2 separate regions of the Homo sapiens genome follow, and region 2 is linked to region 1. The links come from fine-mapping of genetic effects on gene expression. Tissue or cell type: ovary. Region 1 holds a variant in brackets; the other region holds the start of a gene. All regions are shown on one strand. Distances are between the middles of the regions.

What was found. PIP is the estimated chance that this variant, and not a neighbour inherited with it, causes the effect.
Region 2: it holds the start of ZNF648, and the variant in region 1 is fine-mapped to the expression of ZNF648 in ovary (GTEx, PIP above 0.99).

Annotation. Positions count from the first base shown.
Region 1 is chr1:181,974,590-181,977,351 of GRCh38, reverse strand. No RefSeq gene overlaps it. Among named protein-coding and RNA genes, the nearest start is that of ZNF648, 86 kb to the left of the region's middle. The variant C/T (reference allele first, on the strand shown) is at 1,674.
Region 2 is chr1:182,060,179-182,062,940 of GRCh38, reverse strand. ZNF648 (zinc finger protein 648) reads left to right here and starts at 1,229. Exons shown (of 2, transcript NM_001009992.1): 1 at 1,229-1,373.

The sequences.
Region 1 (2,762 bases):
GCTTTCTATTTGCTTGGTTAATTTCCTGCATCCCTTTATTTTGAGCCTATGTGTGTCTTTGCATGTGAGATGGGTCTCCTGAATACAACACACTGATGGGTCTTGACTCTTTATCCAATTTGCCAGTCTGTCTCTATCTTTTTTTTTTAATTTTATTATTATTATACTTTAAGTTTTAGGGTACATGTGCACAACGTGCAGGTTTGTTACATATGTATACATGTGTCATGTTGGTGTGCTGCACCCATTAACTTGTCATTTAGCATTAGGTATATCTCCTAATGCTATCCCTCCTGCCTCCCCCCGACCCCACAGCAGTCCCTGGTGTGTAATGTTCCCCTTCCTGTCTCTATCTTTTAATTGGGACATTTAGTCCATTTACATTTAAGGTTAGTATTGTTATGTGTGAATTTGATCCTGTCATCATGATGCTATCTGGTTATTTTGCACACTAGTTGATGCAGTTTCTTCATCATATCATTGGTCTTTATGTTTTGATGTGCTTTTGTAGGGGCTGGTACCAGTTTTTCTTTTCCATATTTAGTGCTTCCTTCAGGAACTCTCTTGTGAGGCAGGCCTAATGGTGATGAAATCCCCATCATTTTTTTGTCTGGAAAGGATTCTATTTCTCCTTCACTTATGAAGCTTGGTTTTGCTGGATATGAAATTCTGGGTTGAAAATTCTTTTCTTTAAGAATGTTGAATATCAGCCCCCAATGTCTTTGGCTTGTAGGGTTTCTGCTGAGAGGTCCACTATTAGTCTGATGGGCTTCCCTTTGTAGGTGACCTGGCCTTTCTCTCTGGCTGCCCTTAACATTTTTTTATTCATTTTGACCTTGGAGAATCTGATGATTATGTGTCTTGGGGTTGATATTCTTGTGGAATATCTTAGTGATGTTCTCTGTATTTCCTAAATTTGCATGTTGGCCTGTCTTGCTAGGTTGGGGAAGTTCTCCTGGATAATATCCTGAAGTGTGTTTCCCAGCTTGTTTCCATTCTCCCCCTTTCCTTCAGGTACTCCAATCAATCATAGATTTGGTCCTTTTATGTAGTCCCATATTTCTTGGAGGATTTCTTCATTCCCTTTTATTCTTTTTTCTCTATTCTTGTCTGCATCCCTTCTTTCAGCAAGGTGGTCTTCAAACTCTGATATCTTTTCTTCCACTCAGTCAATTCAGCTGTTGATACTTGTGTATGCTTCACGAAGTTTTCGTTCTGTGTTTTCCATCTCCATCAGGTCATATATGTTTCTGTCTAAACTGGTTATTCTAGTTAGCACTTCCTCTAACCTTTATCAAGGTTTTTAGCTTCTTTGCATTGGATTAGAACATACTCCTTTAGCTCAGTGTAGTTTCTCATTACCTATCTTCTGAAGCCTACTTCTGTCAATTCATCCATCTCATCCTCTGTCCAGTTTTGTGCCATTGCTGGAGAGGTGTTGTGATCATTTGGAGGAGAAGAGGCACTCTGGCTTTATGGGTTTTCAGCATTTTTTCATTTATTCTTCATGAGTTTGTCTAGTTTTGATCTTTGAGGCTGCTGACCCTTGGATGGGGTTTTGGTGGGGACTTTTTTTTGTTGTTGATGGTGTTGTTGTTGCTTTCTGTTTGTTTTTCTTTCAATGGTCAGGTCCCTCTTCTGCAATTTGCTGGGGGTTCACTTCAGGCCCTATT[C/T]ATCTGGTTACCTCCTGCACCTGGAGATGTCACTCAAGGAGGCTGGAGAACAGCAAAGATGGGTGGGTGCCTGTTCCTTCTTCTGGGATCTCTGACCTCAAAAGGCACCAACCTGATGCCAGTAGGATCACTCCTGTGTAGGGTGTCTGACAACCCCTGTTGGAGGGTCTCACCCAGGTGGGTGGCATGGGAAACAGGACCAGTTTAACAAGCACTTTGACTGTCCTTGGTGGAGGGAGTGTGCTTTGCTGGGGGGTAACCCACTTGTCTGTGCTGCCTGGATTCCTCAAACACACCAGGAGGAAAGGCTAAGTCTGCTAGTCTGCAGAGACTGCAGCCACCGTTCCCCCTAGGGGCTCAGGCCCAGGGAGATTGGGGTTCTGTCCCTGAGCCTCTGGCTGGAGTTGTTAGAGTTCCTGCAGGGAGGCCCCACCCAGTGAGGAAGGATGGGTCAGGGTCAGGCCTGAAGAGGCGCTCTGGCTGCAGTTTCCCATATCTGGTGTGTTGGGCTGTGGAGGACACCTTTTGGGATCAAGCCGTCCAGCCTTCCTGGCTCCAGCAGGGGAAAAGCTTGGCCTGGAGCTACAGAGACGGAGCCCAGGAAGCTTAGCATATTAGGCAGTTATGAGTCCCAGTGCAGGTTGCTGTCCCTCTCCTAAGGAGCTCAAATGGCTTAGATAGGCAGCAGCAGCTTTGGTGCTGGTTGCCCCTTTCCCCAGGAACTTGCCAACCTTAAGCAGATTCTAGCTGAGAGGCTGTTGAGAATCTGTGCAGGTCCGGGATTGGGACCCTAGGCCCTGGTGGGGTGGGTTTGCAAGTGGGATCTTCTGATCCGTGGGTTGCACAGTTCCGTGGAAAAAGCATGGTTTACCCTGCCGGGTAGCACGCTCACTCATCACCTCCCTTGACTGGGGGATGGGGACTCGCCTGCCTCGTGTGGCTCTCAGGTGGGCCACTGCACCACACTGCCCTTCCTTCCTCTCTATGGATCACACCAGCCGTCTAGTCAGTTCTGATGAGAAAAGCTGGATACCTTGATTGCCAGTGCAGGATTCACATGGTATAATGGTTCTTTTCTTCTCTTTCTTT
Region 2 (2,762 bases), 86 kb before region 1:
TATAAATGGGAGCTGAACAGTGAGAACACATGGACACAGGGAGGGGAACAACACATATTGGGGCCAGTTGGGGGAGTGCGGGGTGGAGAGAGCATCAGGAAAAATAGCTAATGCATGCCGGGCTTAATACCTAGGTGAAGGAAGGGTTGATAGGTGCAGCAAACCAGCATGGCACATGTTTACCTATGTAACAAACCTGCATATCCTGCACATGTATCCCGGAACTTAAAATTTTTAAAAATCGTCAATAATAACAATGAAAGCAGCTAACGTTTTTGGGTACTTGCTATGTTCCAAACACCGAACTAAGCTCCTTACATGCATTATCTCATTTAATACTCCCCAAACTTCCATGATGGCAATAGTATCCTGGTCCCTGTTTTGCAGATGAGACACTAAGGCACACAGAGGTTAAATAACTTGCCCAAGATCACACAGCTAGTAAGTAGTAAGATTCAAACCCAGACCCAGACCGTGCTGTCAATCAGTATACTTTGTGACCACCTAGTGACATCACAGGAACCACACTTCCATCACCTATTTTAATGCCCTGAATGTTCATCCTAATAAATGCACATTAGACTTGAGTGGGTAAAAATTCTGAATGTACTGAGTCTTCTACCTTGGGCCAATCCTTCTCTTCAAAATGAACCTGCATGGGAATCAATGCTGAAAGTGGAAAGAGACCCCAGACAGGCCTGGCATCTGTATGCATAAGACAGAAAACCATCTCCCTGCACCCCTACTCCCAGTTAAAAGGCTGTGGGCATCTTTGAGCCAATGAATGGGCTGCTACAAAGAATTCTGGGAATCCCAACCCCTCACAGTTCTGCAACTCACAGTCCTGCAAAAGGTGGGTACTAGAATAGGGAGGTGGGCATATAGGCCAAATACTCTGTTCTGCCTTCCAGGAGGGAAAAAGCATGCTACCCAGGAAGCTCACAAGTGACATGTGGCCCATGGGCATACCAGGGCTAAAGTGAAGGATGGACTGCTCTGTGGAAGGAAGGAGTGAAAGTGAACAAGAGGCATAGGGCCACCTGCAGGAAGACTGAGAGGAGGGAAGGAGGAAGGCTGGCTTTGGCAGGGAGGGGAGGCAGGAGCAGAGGGAGCCAGAGGATCGGTTCAGGCAGTGAGAGAGGGCAGCCCCACTCTATTTCCCAGGCTGCTCTCTGGATGCAGGCAGGAAGGTTGAGTGTATTACACTGGCCCCACCTCCAGAGGCTCTCTCTGCAGCCGCTGGACTGGACACAAAGCGTGAGAGACAGAGACACCATCTCTGCTGATTTGTACCTAACTGGTTCCTGTTGCTGAGAGCCCACGTGTCACAGAAGCCAGGGCAGAGGCCCCACACTGCTGTCTGCATTTCCCAGGTAAGCAACCGTCTGTGTGTGAGCCAGGAGTGGAGAGCAAGGCCTGAAGGCGGTGAGCAGAGAAGAAAGTAGGAGGCGGCTGCCTAGGATGGACTTCAGTACAATCTGGAAAGAATGAAGGAAAGAAGAGGGGTATGGGCTGGGGTTGCAACAAGCCCTTAGGGTAGGCTTCTGCAGAGTGTTGATGGATGTATGAGGTTGGGGAGTCAAAGGCTGCATTTGGTCCACTCTTGGCTGGCAAGTGCAGAGGAAGTTCCAGCAAAGGACTGCTCTGACAGCCTCTGGGGACTAGCACATCTGGGGAGCAGAGAGGCCCGCCATACCATGGCATCAGTGTTCCTCTTTCAGACCAGGTATATTTGTGCAGACTTTGCCAGAAAATCCCTCCCTGTGCCCCTGCCTGCCTCCAGGTCTTCCTGGTGGTCGAGAGCATGCGTGTGGCAGCGACAGGAGGAAGAAAGCAGGACATATTCACTGGGGATATGGCTTCAGATGGAGGAGGGATACCTCATCTGAAAAGAGAGTCTCCTGACGGGCTCTGGAGAGGAGATTGGTTAGCTAGTGGAGGGCTGTGTGCCACCCTAAGGAGGCTCCCCTGTGGCCCAGAGGAAAAGAATGACACACAGACTGTGGAAAATGGGGTATTTGTGCTGGAGGTGGGGTGGGGAGCGGGTAAAGTCAGTGATCTGTGAACAGTGCCACAGAAACAGGCAGTATGTTGTCGTAAAGAGGGAAAGAGACCTAAGACATGTGTTTCATACAAATCCAGCATCCCTTTGCTGTCCCTGCTGGGGGACCTACAGCCCCGGATCAAGCCTGCTGGTCTGAGCAAGTTCTATGAGGTTGGCTAGTGGTATGTCCCCTCTATGAACTACACATTCACTCCCTAAGATCCACTATGCTGAAAATATGTCAGATCTGGGCTCCTGTCAAAAGGCATGCCAGCTACCCTCTGCCATGTGATGGGTGAGGGAAGCAGTGAGAGAAGAGGAGTGGTCCCTGGGCTTTAGGGCACAAAGAGACGTGAGATGCTGAATTCCAGTCACAACTGCAATGTGTCCTCCCTCCATCCATGGCTTCTGTATCCAGAGCAGAAAGTGAGGATTCCTCCATACTGCTCCCTCTTCATACACACAGGGTAACTGGGCTCATGATCAGGCAGAAACCAGGGAAGAACAGTTTAATGAGATGGGGATAGGGTTAACTGTACCAGCCAAATACAAAGATCACTCCTTTTATCCAGTCTGAGATGGCAGTGAAAGGTGGGCAGAGGTAGAGAGAAGGAGCTTTCAGAAGGTAAATACTCAGTGACTAATACTCTTGAGCACCACAGGCAGTGGCCTCTGCAACATGGGTCCTGGCTCTGATGGGCAGCCACTGGCCTCTCTC